2 separate regions of the Homo sapiens genome follow, and region 2 is linked to region 1. The links come from fine-mapping of genetic effects on gene expression. A gene starts in region 1. The other region holds a variant in brackets. All regions are shown on one strand. Distances are between the middles of the regions.

The links.
Region 2: its variant is fine-mapped to the expression of ITIH5 in ovary (GTEx, PIP above 0.99). The same link has a PIP of 0.9 or more in lung and testis.

Annotation. Positions count from the first base shown.
Region 1 is chr10:7,663,058-7,671,057 of GRCh38, forward strand. It overlaps ITIH5 (inter-alpha-trypsin inhibitor heavy chain 5), which reads right to left and starts at 3,909. Exons shown (of 14, transcript NM_030569.7): 1 at 3,746-3,909. The coding sequence starts at 3,835.
Region 2 is chr10:7,538,038-7,546,563 of GRCh38, forward strand. LOC105376391 (a long non-coding RNA gene) reads left to right here and starts at 3,362. Exons shown (of 2, transcript XR_930632.2): 1 at 3,362-3,599. RefSeq lists enhancers at 315-1,514, 3,452-4,311. The variant C/A (reference allele first, on the strand shown) is at 3,365.

The sequences.
Region 1 (8,000 bases):
GCCATGAGCTACAAATACAAATCACATTTAAATAAATTCAACTAAATTATAAAAGTGAACATGGCTTGCTGTTTGAAGGATTTGCTGAGAGCCCCAGCTTTGGTGTTCGGCACACCTACACTCCAATCCAGGCTTTGCACATAGTAGGTTGTTGCAGCTGTCACTTCTCAGAAAGGACTTCCTGGTTGTCCTTTGTCAAATAAGTACATTGAGACATTACAGCGGTAGTCAGAGACTTAACTAGGCTGTGCATAAATAGTAAAAGCAGCTAATATTACCTAAGTGTTTACTATATGCAAATGCTTTGCCTGAATTAACTCATTTAATCCTCGAACAACCATAAAAGCAGAACTGTTATTTTTATAAAAATTAAATTATTATTTACATGCTAATAAAACATAAGCTCCAGGACACCTCACTTGTGCAAGCCCCTAAAAATGCGTGATGTTTGTGGTGCCTGTCAGATTGTCAAAATGTGTAATTTGTTGTGCTTTCTTTATCTTTCTAAATAAATAGTCATTTTAGCACCTAATTTTGTAGTTATAATTTGATACTTTTTTCCTTCAAGAGGGTCCTGCAAATTGTATAAACTTTACTCTCCTCCCAAAGCCTAGATCCACCCCTGCCTATGTAGTAGGAATTATTAACAACTCTATATTGCAGATGATGAAACTGAGACCCAGAGAGGTTAAGTGACTTGCCCAGGTACACACAGGCAGTAAGTGATGGGGTCCAGATATGAGCCCAGGCAGTCCGGCACCACATGGAGTACTCAACCAGAATACATTATTGCCTCTTATTATTTTCACATAAAGCTCCTAGCAAACTCCCTGAGACATTGGGACATTACAGATACTCAATAACTGGTGGCTTTTACTATTTTGTCAATCTAAAACTGCTTTGATAATAATGGGAATATAACTCTATCTTTAAAGACACCATATAAATTTAAGCTAACAAAACAGATAAGTCTGTAGCAGACAGTTTTTATACAAGGGATTTTCTTTTAAATACTAATTTCCCAAAATATCCTTTAAAAATACTACTATTCAAAGTGTGCGGCTAGGCACAGTGGCTTATGCCTGTAATCCCAGCACTTTGGGAGGCCAGGGCAGGTGGATCACTTGAGCTCAGGAGTTTGAGACCAGCCTGGCCAACGTGATGTATTTTTGTCTCTATTAAAAATACAAAAATTAGCCAGGCATGGTGGAGTGCACCTGTAATCCCATCTGCTTGGGAGGCTGAGGCATGAGAATCACTTGAACCCAGGAGCCAGAGGTTGCAGAGAGCAGAGAGCCTGCCACTGCACTCCAGCCTGGGCGACACAGCGAGATTCCGTCTCAAAAAAAAAAAAAAAACTAAAATGTGTTCCATGGACCACCTGCATCAGAATCATCTGCGCCCCATCCCAAACCCAATGGATCTAAACCAATGGAAGTGGAACTCAGGAAGCTGAATGTTTAATGAACACCCCAAGTGACTTTTTCCACCCCAAGGGTGAAAACCACTGCTTTTAGGAGTCATTCCACTATGGGTTACTGAGTACCCACTGTCTACAGATGGGGTGAAGGGTGAGAGGTGAAGGAACTTGAATCTAAGGTGTTACTGGTATATTTCCAATTACAGGTGAATGACAAATAACTGCAATGCAAGTTAATAGTCATATTCAGCTATATTAAAATTTGCATAAGATTTGCATAGACTTACATTTTTCAAATTAAGTTTACATACAATTTTAAAGACCATAATGATTGAGAATAGAGTGCTCATTACATTCCCAGGTTCTGTTCTAAGATTTAAGTATATTAATTGTTTCACTTTTCAAAATCCTAAGTAATTGCATCATCCCCATACAGAGATAGAGGCTCACAAACGTTAAGTAACTCCTCAGTAAGTGCAGAGCCAAGATTTGAACCCAGAATTCTGGTGCTAAAGCCTATGCTCTCAAACCCTATATCACAAAAACTAAATATAAAAAAGAACGGATTAGGGATAAAAGGTAAAATTGCAAGTTCATAGAACTTTATACCTTGGATTTTTTTTCCTGATTTAGTCATTTTCAAGATAAATAAATATTGTGCTGGGTTGAAGACAGCATGAAATCACTAAAAGAGGTCAAGCCATGTTTTTTTATGACAGCAAGTCCATAGACTGTGAAGCCTACTTGAACTTGGTATATGCTAGAGTTTAAACAGCCTTCCTAGTTCAGACACAGAATCTTTGTTTCAGTCCATCCCACACTGTCCTGTCTCCACACCCCCAAAAAAGTTTCAAGATCTTTACCCTAAATTCCTTCACTCAGCATGTCAGCAGCATGAGTCTAAGACCATGGCCAGCATTAAGTGCTGACAGTGTTTTAAGCACTTGGGTGTCATAATGCATTCAGTCCTCACAACCCTATCATTTCTCCACATTTCACAGAAGAGGAATATAAGGCCGAAAGGCACTTGATCAGGGTCCCAGAGCTGATAAGTGACAGAATCAAGAATCAAGTGGTCCCAGACATCCTGGTACCAAGCCCATGCCTTCAGCCATCTACTAAAACATCTCCCAGTTATTGAGCGTCCACTGTATACCAGGTGCTTAACACAAATTAGCTGAGTCCTTGCAAGTTTGCTCAAAAAGAGCCGCATTCCCTGCCCTGACCAACGAGGACATGAAGGCTCTGAGAGATTAAAGGGCTTGCCCGGAACACACAACTAAAGCCCAGCCTGTCTCTGCATCCAAAGCCTGCACTTTTCCAACATCACTACGATGCCTCCTGGGATTTTATTAGCTACTCCCCCCCTAGAAGGAAGTATCATTACTACCACTTTACTGTTAAGCACATTCACAGGACAGAGAACATGAAGATAACTGTCTTCATATTTAGGCAGTTGGGCTTCAAAACTGCTCTTCAAAACAGGGGCTGGAAAAGGGAGAAAAGGTCCGCCTACTTGTATCTTCCTCCCACCGTGCACAAACACGCTGGAAGCTAAACGGCTTAAATATTTAAATGGCATGTGTGTGAAAGCACTTCTACTTTGTGACAGGGCCATGTTGCACATTAGCTCTCAATGCTATTTGTGTGAACCCGCTTCATACTTTTTAAAGACAAAAATGCTCTATTCATCATTTTATTGACATTTCATATTTGCAGGTTTTATTCGCCTGCGAGGTTAAGACATTTGAAACACAAATCCTGACAAACGCACAGACCAGCAACTCGAGGAACTCAGACGCTTTGGCTCTCGGTGCCACCTTTAAATGCTAAACCACCGGTAGGTAGTCGCTAAATGGGAAAGTCGTGTTCTCCCGGTTTTCAGGTGGGAAAAGCTGAGGCTCCCAGGAGTCTAGAACTCCTCTCATATTGCCTTTCTCCCTGGATCAACTGGGAATGATGATAACAGCAGACTGCCCCCCACGCGTGATAAGGAAAAAACCTTGTAATTATAATAACTTTTGGAGCTACCTCAGAAATTAACAACGACGAACAGAAATCTGCGCAATCAACAGGAGCCAAGAAGAAAAACTCGGCTCCGCAGGACAAGTCCCGGGCACAGTTCTGCAGGAAGCCTCAGGCCAGATCAGGCACCGCGGCTCACACAGAGGTGACGCACGAGTGACCCACAGAGAGGGACCCCTGGGCCTCTGGTGGGGGCCTGGGAGACGGTCGAAGGGGGCCCGGGCAGAAGCTCCGCGGCCGGGCCGGCGGAGGGAAGGGGGCGGCCGCGCCCGGGACCCGGCTCCCCTCGGCTCCACTTACCTGCTCCGAAGAGTGGCCCCAGCTCTGCGCCTCTTCCTGCGACCCCACACACAGGGACAGCCCCAGGCACAGCCCCAGCAGCAGGAGCATGGCGGGGCGAGGGCGCGGGACGCTCGGGGACCCGGCGGGACACGCTTTGCAGCGCCCAGGGCTCCAGCCACTGCGGGACGCTCTCGGGGCCGCCCACCCCGCGGTCCCAGCCCGGACCCCGCCCACCCCACGGACCCAGCCCGGACCCCGCCCACCCCGCGGTCCCAGCCCGGACCCCGCCCACCCCACGGACCCAGCCCGGACCCCGCCCACCCCACGGACCCAGCCCGGACCCCGCCCACCCTGCGGTCCCCTCCTGGACTCCGCCCACCCCACGGACCCAGCCCGGACCCCGCCCACCCCACGGACCCAGCCCGGACCCCGCCCACCCCGCGTCCCAGCCCGGACCCCGCCCACCCCACGGACCCAGCCCGGACCCCGCCCACCCTGCGTCCCCTCCTGGACTCCGCCTACCCCGGTCCCAGCCCGGACCCCTTCCACCCCGCGGTCCCCTTCTGGACTCCAACTCTCCCACCCCAGCCCAGACCCCACTTCCCCGCCCCAGACCTTCCCACACCCTGCCTCCCTGGACACCCCCCAAGCCCGGCCTCGCCTCCCTGTCCCCAGTCAGGACCCAGCTTCCCCAGGTCCCCAACCCCAAGCTCCGTTTCTCCACGCCCCCATTTCCCCCCACCTCCCCAGTCCCGGCCCCACCTCTCCTGTCCCTGTCCCCACCGAGGCCAACTTCCCAGACCCCACCTACAGCCACCCCCTTAAACCCGGCCCGCCTCCCTGTGGCCCCCACACCAGCCCCGCCTCCTCCCCAGTCCCCACCCCGCCCGGCGCCGCTTCCCGGCCTCAGTCCCACCAGAGCCGCGCCTCCAGCCCCCAGTGCTGGGCTAGCTCTGTTCGGGGAGAAGGCATTCCAAGCCTGCCTCGCCGCGCACAGCAGGGGCCACCTGTGTTGGCCCCACGGACCCCTCCCACACCCTCCCATCCTGCGGCTGTGACACTTAACCAAGGACCAGTCTCCTCTGTAGAGCCTCCTACTCCGTTTCTTGCCAACACCCACTGCCTCCCGGGCCCTACCCCACGCGCCCCCGCAACTCTTTCTTCCTCTCCCTCAAGGTGCAATATGCTTCTTTGCGGACTTGCTTAATTTCTGTCGCCAGAGGACGCGAGAAGGCCAGCCTGGTCCTCAGCACACAGCCCACCCCGCACCTGCCAGCCTGAAGCCGGCAGATCGTCCCCTCTGCATTGGCCAGGGACGCTTAATAGGCAGGACAAAGGATACTACCTGCAGTCTAGCGCAGGAGGGACTAGCAAGGCTGCCAGCCTTTATGTTCTAAGGAAACAGAGGAGACGAGGGAAGTATCTTGGTAGCGTGTAGTATTTCTGAGTTTCTGGTTATTAATCATGTAAGTGAGTGCCAGTATGTATCTTAGTTACAAACTATTGGTGATACTTCCATCCTGCCATTGGAAGAATTCTTACCCACCAGCCGTCCACACCTGGCCTTCTACAGGCTGAGTGCGTCTTTTTTATCTGGTGATACACATTGCAGTTGGGGCTACTTGTTTATTTCATGTTGCAAAGGATGTTTTTTATGTCTCTGTGATAATTTCATCTAAATAGGTGAGGTGAGTGACAGACCCTTTAAGGACCAAGAACAGGGAAGGGGCTAACTTCGGACCATGGAATAGAGAATACTATTCCATGCAGGTTACTATGGGGCCATTAAATAATCGTGCGACGTCTCCAGAAACATGGAGAATGTTGACAGTGTAATCTAAAGAGAAAATCACATCACCAAATCGTATCAACAGTATGATTGCAATTAGGTAGAAATACATATGGAGGGACATAACTAGAAAAAAAAAACATGAAAAATAAAAGCAGTGGGTAGGTTAGTTTGTGGTGAGATCCTCGAAAATATCTATTCTTGTTGAAATGCTCTTTGTTTAATGAATTAGGAGAGGTTAAAAACAAACACCTTGCTACTGTGAAATAAATGAAAGGAAAATTATTGTCATCAGCAGTTAATCCTTTAATAGCCTAACCACTAGTCAGCATGCAACCAATAAGAAACAACTGTAGCCGGTTATTTTTCCCTCCAGAGGAAAGTAACTATTTGTGAACCAGAAGTTGAATTGGACAAAGCCAGTTTATTTGCAATAGGGAACCATACAGCGGCCATTATTTCAACCCATGATTGCAACAGAACAGAGACTCCATCGTCTTTCCTTCCCTGCCATCCCTAACTTGAAATGCTGAAAGGGCCCATATTAAACTATTTTTGCCTTTATATCTGATCTCTTTTTTTTTCCCAAATTCATACTAACTGGGTTTTACAGCAGTCTAATGTTAAGAAAAGTGAGTTTTATTTTCATCTGGGAGGACCCTCTGATTCTACCCTAGACTGTGGTTCTAATGTGTTGTTTGTTTAATATAAAGCCAGTTTCTCCAACTGGATCTGTTCTTTGAGGACAAGCCTCTCCCCCAACTTCTAGAACTGTGCTAAATATATTGTTAGCACTTAAGGACCTTTTGATGAATGAGATTAGTAGATGGGAGGAATGAGTGTGGATGGTAGAGCCAGGCTGTGCCAGGGAGGTGGGGCTGGGCTATAGTGCAAACTTGACCGCTACCTAGCTGTATGACTTGACAGAGTTTCTGAACTTCCTATTATTTTCAAGCTGTAATAGTTCAGTATTCTATGTGACACCTGTGTATCTCTATGATGATCTTTAAAATCTAGGTAGGTGTGATAAAAATAAGACCTAGTGAAAGTTTTCCAAGACTGTCAACAAGCAAAGACAGTGATTTATATCAGCCTTATAAATAAGGGCCAAGGTGTCCCCACATACATTTGTCCTTTGATTCCATGTTTCTCATTTTACCTCCAGGAGGAGCTGAATTTCCAGTTACTGAACACATAAAATCTCAAAGCTAGAAAAGACCCTGCACGATGTCTAGCTCAATTCATTCACCAGGACCATGTGCCACGAGTGACAAATCACAGGGAAGGCCCCCGGGGTTCACGGACAGGATCTAGAGGCAGAGCTCAGCGACAAGGGACTCAGAGTCCAAGAATGAACAGGAGCTGTTTCTCCTGGGCCAGAGATGCTGCTCTGTCCACGCCACTTCTAGGAAATCATTCCCTCAAGTAACTGAATGATGGGCCAAAGTATTCCAGAATTGTCGAATCACACTTGTGAGAGTTATCCCTTTATCCTGGTCTCCTACTGGAGACTACCAATAGATGGGCCCAAAATCATGGTCAAAACAACCATGACTTAACGAGATTAACGAGTTGAAAGCAGGCTGCCTGTTTGTTTTCTTTTAAACCTCTCCCTTGATTTTACATCCTGACACCCCATAGCTCCTAAATCTAGCTATGGTTAGAGTTAAGCCACCACCCAGTTCTTTGGTCTCCACCTCCTCTCCCTCTCTCATCCTCCCTTCTGAGCCTCTGTAAGGCCATTGTTCTATTTGGGACAGCTCTTTCTCCCCATCCTTGGTCTACTCCTTTTTTATCTACTTATATGGCCTTGTGTGTTTCTCTTGGCCCCCTGACAACTGTGTAGAATCGCTACAGGTTTTTACAACCTTGGCTTTTTTTTTTTCTTGATTAGAGGGGACTACTAGGGAGGAAATGGGTTCCTTTTGACTTTGACTTGATGATTTCTCGGGAGCCCAGTTATAGCGTGTCAGGAGTCTAGTTATACCTACTTTTCATCTGCTTCACCAAACACTGAGTTTTGTCCACAGAGATTTGTGAAGGAAGAAATAGGGAATGCAGTTTTCTAATATATGATTGGTGATTGCTGAACTCAACTGTTCACAAAGTGTAACACTTACCATATTTTAATTATTGGCTTGCAGATTTGAGACCTAAATTAGACTCTGATTTCTTCATGGTCAAGGATTCTATCATTCTTGTTTTGACATCCTCAGGCTCTGACACATGGCCTGGAATAGAGTAGACGTGCTGTATGCTTGATGAATGAATGAAAAAATGTATATCTGCCATTATGTTACCCTGTGCTAGTTGTGTGTAATATGACAAGTTTTAGACAGACTCCGTGACCTTGAAGAAGTTACCATTTAGATATGAAGATGGAGCTAACAAAATGGACAAAATTTGAACTCAGTAGTGATTTCCTAAGAGGAGAAGGGACAAGATTGTGATTGTATTTGTGGTCTGGAAGGCTTCATGAAGGAC
Region 2 (8,526 bases), 120 kb before region 1:
CCACTACTCATCACTGAGCTACAGGAACAAGAAGAAAAGTTTAGATAAAGAGAAGTAAAGCATTCTCCTAATGCAGCCTAAGTAGAAAATTGAACCCGAAAAACAAGTTTATCAGCATCATTGAAACAAAAAGCAATATACATTCAATCATAGTGTCACTTTAACATGGCTGAATTTTCAGATACTCTGATTTCCTGTTGGAGTTTTAGTACAACTAAGTAAGGGGTAGATATGGAATCTGTTCCATTTATCAAGTACTGTGTAACAAACTATCCCCAAACATAGCGGCGAAAAACAACAAAAACACTTATTTTGCTCTTGAATCTGCAATTCAGGCAGGGCTTGACAAGGAAAGCTTGTCTCTGCTCTGCTCACTGTCAGCCGGGACAGTTCAAAGGCAGGGGGCTAAAATTATCTGAAGCTCAGTCATTCACATGCCCAGGGATTCACACTGACTTTTGGCTAGGACCTGAGCTAGGCTTGTCTGCCGGACAGCTACGCGTGGCCTCACGATGTGACCTCACAACATGGAAGCACCATGTGCTTCCTCACAACATGGCGGCTGGATTTCAATGATGAGTGTCCTAAGAGAGAGAGGACAGCAGCTGTATCACTGTTTGTGACCTGTCTCAAGAGCCATGTAGCCTCACTTCCATTGCCATCTATTCATCGAGATGACCACAAAGGCCCACCTGAATTCAATGGAATGGCAAAATAGATCCTACCTCTTGCTGGGCATAGTGGCAAGGTACAGAAGAGCATGTGGGACTAGAAATAGTGCAGTGTCCCTTTTTGGAAAATACAATTGGCCTCAGAATCCACGGTGCAGGATTGCCCCAGAAAGCCATATGAATTATTCTTTATGGAAGTTGGACACTCTAAAGAGCAGATGACCTTTGCCACCATGATATGATGTCCCACCCCTCTCTAATGCCAACCTTCCATCTGTCCCAGGAAGGGCTGTCTTCTCACAGTAGGTGTTGGGTATTTCTGCCTCCCCTTTTGGCTTCTGCCCAACCATACCCTCACCCCATGCCTCCTCTAGCTGCTCTAGTTCACAATATTCTCTCTCTTCTCTGAACTTTTACTTCCTGTAGCACCGACAGAGCCTTGATATACTTCCTCCTCTCATGAGTTAATTTCCTTGTGTGCCTGTTTGCCTCAAAACCAGATAATAGGCCCTTGGCCCCTCTCCCTGTGTCATGCACAGAGTGGGCATTCAGTGAATGGTTCTTGATTTGATTATACATTCATGACGTCACCGTAAAGTTAGTCTCCCTGGGCTACATATCAACATGGAAGAAAACTGCAGCCCCCTGACCTATTAGAAGGATGTGACATCTCACGGGAGTGCTCAGTTGCCCTTCAAAGACAGGAAAATAAATGTCAGATTTGGTTTTGTTTATCTGATCTTCATGCAATCACGGTTTCGTACCTCTGGGGGTGGAAAGAATTGGACTGTTTCATAATTGTTTAGAGGTAAGCATAAAATGCACTAAGGCATTGAACTCTGGGTGTGGTGAGAAAGAGAGAAGATGGGAAGGGTGAGAATTCATGGAATCTGGTTGGGTGCTCCTCATTTAGTGCCTTTGTGTGGGAGAAGAGCAGATAGATGGTGGGAGGGTGAAAGGAAGGGCTACTTCAAGTTGCTCCAAAAACTGGGAGTGGGTGGGAATTAAGTCTCTATCAGGTCAAGTTAATACTGGTTAGAATTAGCAAAGTGACTGAGAGTGAGCCTTGGGGTTTATTTTTTGGAAGGAGTCTAAAAGTCCTTCCCACAAAGCACTCCAGCTCCATCTAATGCAATGCCTCTGATTTGTCATAGGCAATTTCTATGAACTTACGCTGTTTTCCCAGTGGACTGGAGTTTATGTATCTCTCTTAATCTGCACAGCCCAGTGGGGAGAGAATCTGTGTTTGTTCCCCTCCCATCTCCTTGCTTACAATTCCTGCTCCCAGCTGGCTTCAGGAACACCCTTGGCAGAGGGGGTAGTGGACCCTCCCTCCATCCCCAAAAACTTAAAGAATGTGCCTTGATTAGAAGCACAAAGCAGATCTCAAGATGTGCTCAGCAGCTGTGGACACCCTGGAGATAAAAAGGAGAGGGGGCCGGTGCCTGTAATGCCAGCACTTTGGGAGGCCGAGGCAGGAAGATCACTTGAGGTCAGGAGTTCGAGACCAGCCTGGCCAACATGGCGAAACCCCATCTCTGCTAAAAATACAAAAAATTAGCCAGGCGTGGTAGTGAGCACCTATAATCCCAGCTACTTGGGAGGCTGAGGCATGAGAATCGCTTGTACCTGGGAGGAAGAGGTTGCAGTGAGCTGAGATTGCACTACTGCTCTCCAGCCTGGGTGACAGAGTGAGACTCTGTCTCAAAAAAAAAAAAAAAAAAAAAAGAGAGAGAGATAGAGAATGTAGAGGAATGGAACCATTATATTACATATCCAAAAAGGGAACAATCCACTTTTTGGTTTAGAACATGACATGTTGTCTTCATGCCAAGCCATCCTTTCCAAATTGTGTTCTATTAATTTAATCTTATGATTACTTTGTATTGATTGTCTAAAGCCCTCACCAATTTGCGACAGTAAAATGCACCCTGGAAGGATGTTAGGTTTAGGAGAGATGCAAGTTGATACCACCGGCCACTGGCCACCAGGTCTCCATTCACAGATAACAGACTTTTGTTTCCATTATCAGTTGACAAATAACAGCTATGTGATTGACTGGGTGAAAAATAAATTTACTGTAGCGTGTTAGTTGCACCATTTCACTCCCTTTATATTTTTAAAGCAAAGATTAAAGTTCAAAAAGAAGCCTCATTTGGTGTTTTTCACGTCTGATGGTAAACTACCTGAGGACAGAGACAGTTGGTTTCCTGGGAGAAAACCCCATGGCTTATCACCAAACAGCGTGCAAACAGTAGGTGCATGGGTGGGGAGGCCTCAATAGTGTCACATACAAAGAAAGGAGTGAAAGCCTGACATAAATTCTCTTCCTTATCCAAAAAGCAAAGCTATCCTATGCAGAGGAAAATGGAGCTGAAACAAGTATGTCTCTTTCCTTCTTTGTATCCCACGACTGTAACCACAGGTATGGCTCTTAGGACCTGTGGAGTCATTCACTGTCCAAAGGCCACGTAGGCTCATTCCTTGTTAGAATAAGGTTGCCTGTGCAGACGGCTGGTCCTGTGTGCAGGCATCTGGGCTCACGTCTCCCAGGAGGGGAGGATGGGGCTGCCGTTGCTGTTGCCATGGCCCCGTGCAGTGTTTCCATAACACAGCCGGCCCACATCCCAAGCAGGCCTGCTTGGACAGTTTGCCCTGCATGATGCGAGACAGGCTGGAGAGGGATCAAGGAC[C/A]CTTTGGGATTGGAATTCTGGGTTTTGCGTGTGAGAGTTTAACTGGCTAAGACCAGGCCAGTACATGAGCGCAGGCCCAAGATCCGAAAGGGAAAGTCCTGAACGCCCCCTTCCCCCTGTCTTTTCGGCGGGGCTTTGGGAGTTTGCAGGGTGTTCTGAGTGTTTGGGCCTCAGGGATTCTCACCTCCGGGAGATTCCAGGAGCTGTAGGGGGTGGAATGCGAGTAGGAGGAGAGGTGAGTAATGACTGGTGGACCCGCATGGGCTAACTCTTACGGTTCAAGGGTTCAGGAAGAGATTTGCAAACGTCTCTACTCTACTTTGTCTACAAAAGAACACCAAGGAATTCAGAAACTTAATTTGAAGTGGAGTTTTTGGGGATTTTTTACTTCTTGGCAGTGGTAGGCTACCCACCATCTGGGACCTGTATGTGTCATTGAAAAGAAGGTCCCCTCTGGCATGAGTGGAGTGCGGTAGGCGTGGCCTGGAATCCCTGGGTGGCCTGACAGCCCATTTTAATCAGCAATTCTACTGGAGTTCCAGTGACCCAGGGAACAAAGTTCACCACTGCTCCTTACTCAGAACTGGTGATAACGTTGACAGGGCTGATGGGAATCCTCCTGCTGGCTGCAAACTCCACCTGCAGCAGAGACGGGGCTTCTAGGGAGACAGGGTCAGTGTGAGTGAGTGCTGCTGGGTTTGCCAGGCTGCTGGAGTGGGTGTACTACTCCTCAGTGTGCAGGGGGCATCCTCTGCCCCAAACCGACCCCATCTCATCTTCCCTTGCTGATTCCTCCTGGCTGCTTCCATGATCCGTCCTACTTCCCAAAACAGAGAGGATATCTAAATATCATTTTTCAACTTCCCCAGCTGGTAAATGATGAAATTATTATATACTTGCCTTTCTTATCTTTCTACCAAACAGTAGGTTCCTTGAAGACAGACGTCATTATCATTCCTGCTTATGTTCATGTCCCCTAATTAACAGGCTTTGTGCTTACCTAACAAGTATGTGGCACGTATCTGTTTAAATAGCATAAAACAAATATCTCAGTGTTTGCAGTAGTGGACATATACCAGTAAAGTGTCAAGGGTGCCATTTCAGAATCCCTTAATCTTCCAGCAACTTTTTGGTGACCACAAAGATGGTGTTTTGCCTGTGATGCCCCACTCTCCTAATATACTATATGGAATAATGACTTTCTATATCCGTAATCAATATTTACTTTGAATATCAGTAGGTTGAGTTAGTAGTTTGATTCTGGTCCCTTGTTTACTCTGATGCAATCCCCTGTAAGAAGGACCTGACAAAGTGCCTGGTGAATGGGGTTCAGTACATGCCAGTACCTTTTCTTTCCCTGCTAATGCGAACTTAGCAATAAGCACTCACAGAAGTGAGAGTCTAGAGCCTTGGTTATTGGCTGTGACTCTGCCATCACGCTTAGGTGATCATTAAGACATCATTTGGTAGTATCTTTCCTCTGGCAAGGGGAAGAGATGGCTGTTTTTGCATAGGGATAAGATATTATCTTTAAAGCACTTTGTGATCCCAGAAGAAAAGTGTACTCTAAGACCCTGGAGCACTACCCCATTTCTCTACTGTTATTAACAAAATAAATGTGTGTCTGGCACAAGGACTTACACTTAGCAGATAACTCCCAAACTATCAGTGTAGTGGTGCATTATTTTTTGGCCACTTGGTCTTTTTGGGCAAATGCCTAACTGTGGAGACTCCCCCCACTTTACCAGTCCTGCCTCCACGTGGGAGCTTTGGCGGGGTTTATTTCTTGGGGCCAAGTCTCAACAAGTTGAATAGGAAAGCTTGGCAGCCCTAAGCTTCTTCTTCATCTTCCCTGGGGCACGCTCCTATGAGCATGTTAGGAAAGAGATTTTTAGGACAGCATTTCAGTCTCGGTTCTTTGGTCTTTTTAGTTAAAGGTCCACGGCCCTGATTTTCAGACGGACATAGTTGTACCAGCTAGAGCTCATAGAGAAGAGAGATTTAGACATTTGCTACTCCAAGCACAGTCCACAGGCATCTGTGTGGGCCTCCCTTGGGGGAGTGTTGGAAATAGAGGATCTGAGACTCATGCCCCTCCCCCAACACCGGAATTGACCTGGCACCACATTCTCCAGGTGACTCACGAGCACTTGCACCTTTGAGAAGACTGATGGAGACAAATGCCCGGGAAGCCGTCTGCAGACCCTGGAAAGGGGGTGTGCACTTGACCCAATCAGAGGCAGTCGTTTGGCTCAGCATCACAGAAAACAGATGTATTAGTCCATTTTCACATTGCTGATAAAGACATGCCCAAGACGGGGAAGAAAAAGAGGTTTCATTGGACTTACAGTTCCACATAGCTGGGAAGGACTCAGAATCATGGTGGGAGGCGAAAGATATTTCATACATGGTGGCGGCAAGAGAAAATGAGGAAAATGCAAAAGTGGAAACCCCTGATAAACCCATCAGATCTCGTGAGACTTATCTGCCACCACAAGAACAGTATGGGTGAAACCACCCCCGTGATTCAAGTCATCTCCCACCAGGTCCCTCCCACAACATGTGGGAATTACGGGAGTACAATTCAAGATGAGATTAGGGTGGGGACACGAAGCCAGACCATATCAATGGAAAATTCCAGAAGGATATGGAAATAGGGTGTAGTTCCAATGCAAGTTTCACCATAGAAGCTACTAGGCTTCTTCAGCTGCAGATCTGGGGCAGATCAACCATCTAATTAGGCCCTGCCAAGAGGGTGCCTGGGAAGGAAGGCCGTGGCAGGCAGGAGGAAGAGGAAAGAGAGGGTGCAAATTATCTTCCTATAAATTTTCAAGTAACCTATATGCATTATAAGATTTCCAGGCACTACGTAAGAGCATAAAGTAAGCACCGGACATGAGAGTTGCCTTCCTCCGAGATTGTACTCATCATATGGAATTGATTAAGAGCACAGACTGCCATTGTTTGAACCCAGCTGTAGCACTCCCCAGCTGTGTGATCTCAGGCAAATTATGTAACTTCTCCCTGCCTCCATTTCCTCAGCTGAAGATAATAGCAGGGTTGTTGTGAGGGTTCAGCTTTGACGTGTGTAAAGCACTTTCACACCATGGCAGCCCGTCAGTCTTATGAGTTGGCTGTTCTCATTCTAATACTTTCATGATTTTCCACGTTTAAAACTTGGATCCATTTGGCATTTCAGTGTAAGGAGCAGGGTAAAGAATTACGGATGTGTCCCCCTCCTCCAGTGGTTAAATGGTTATCCAGTAATCCCAACATCATTTATCAACTAATCTCTCTTTCCACCTGTCTTATGGGTTGAATTGTGTCACCTAAAAATATGTGTTAATGTCCTTACCTCCAGTAACTCACAATGTGACCTTATTTTTATTTTATTTTTATTTTTATTTTTTTTGAGACACAGTCTCACTCTGTCATCCAGGCTGGAGTACAGTGGCATGTTCTTGGGTCACTGCAACCTCCCCCTCCTGGGTTCAAGAGATTCTCATGCCTCAGCCTCCCCAGTAGCTGGGACTACAGGCATGTACCACCACGCCCAGCTAATTTTTTAATATTTTTAGTAGAGATGGGGTTTCACCATGTTACCCAGGCTGGTCTTGAACTCCTGGCCTCAAGTGATCCACCTATCTCAGCCTCCCAACATGCTGGGATTATAGGCGTAAGCCACGGCACCCAGCTGGGAATGTGACCTTATTTAGAAATAGGGTGGTTAAAAATGTAATTAGTTGGCCGGGTGCGGTGGCTCACGCCTGTAATCCCAGCTACTCAAGAGGCTGAGGCAGGAGAATCGCTTGAACCCGGGCGGCAGAGGTTGCAGTGAACTGAGATTGTACCACTGCACTCCAGCCTGGGTGACAGAGTGAGACTTCATCTAAAAAAAAAAAAAAAGTAATTAGTTAACATGAGGTCATAATGGAGTAGGGTGGGCCCCTAATCCAAGATGACTGATGTCTTTTAAGAAAAAGAAAAAAACACAGGGAAAATAGCCAGGTTAAAAGAAAGGCAGAGACTGGAGCAATGTGGCCACAAGCCAGGGAATGCATGGGGCAACCAGGAGCTGGAGGAGGCAGGAAGGATCCTCTCTAGAGGCCTCGGAGAAAGCACAACCTTGCCAACACCTCGATTGCAGACTTCCGGCCTCCAGACTGTGAGATGATCAATTTCTGCTCTTTTCAGCCTCTGCGTTTGTGGTACTTTGTTTTGGCAGCCCTGGGAAGCTAATGTAACATAGGATGGATATGTTTTTTCTTGTTTGGGTCTGGTTGACTATTCCTCTGTTTTAATGATCTGTTTTAATGATCAATAAGTCCAGTTCAAATGTAGGAGACATTGAACCTTCCCATTATTCCCAATAGAAAATTTTTGAGATAAAATTAGACACTTTGATACCAAAAGTGCCAAATCAGGAACTGTGACTGGCCACTGTAAAAACTCATATTTTCCTGAAAGTCTGTGTCCATGAGGACCCTGGCAGCTCCACTTCCCACTCCACGGCCTCAGACACTGAGATGCTTTCCACCATGACACTCAGAGAAGGATGTAACGTCTCAGCTGCCACAGCTCTCATGAATTGTAGAGGTTTATAAAACTTAGTGGGATGCAGCTGCACTTATTAATAAGCGCTATCCATGGCTAGAACCAAAGACTGTGTTAGTGGAAGATGAAGTCTTCATTCCTTGGCTTATGACAACGTTAACTGTTTTTTAAGGACCACTGGTGGAAGTGGTGAAAGAAAGCACCAATGCCAGGTTCTATTTTACTTGAGTAAAGAAAATCAGATTAAAATAATGAGTGACAATCCAGGACCTCGGACGCTTCCTGGGGGGGCTGTCCACAGGGCCTCACTGTGAGGCCTCCTCAGTGGCATAAATAGGGCTGCATTTCATAGCAGCCAAGTGTCAGGAAATATGCTTTTAATTATCATTTAAGATGTAACCTGTCAGAGGTATTAGTATCACTTGTGTTTAATGAGAATTGATTTTCAGATTGCATTACCCAGGAAGCCCAGGATAATGGAAACCCCCAGTTCTTTCCTGAGACCTCAAGTCACCACCACATCGCTCTGTGCCAGTGCTCACCACATCAGCAGCCACCGGACATCTGATCTGCCCACATGCAGCCCAGGCAGAGGCCTGCTTAGCCTT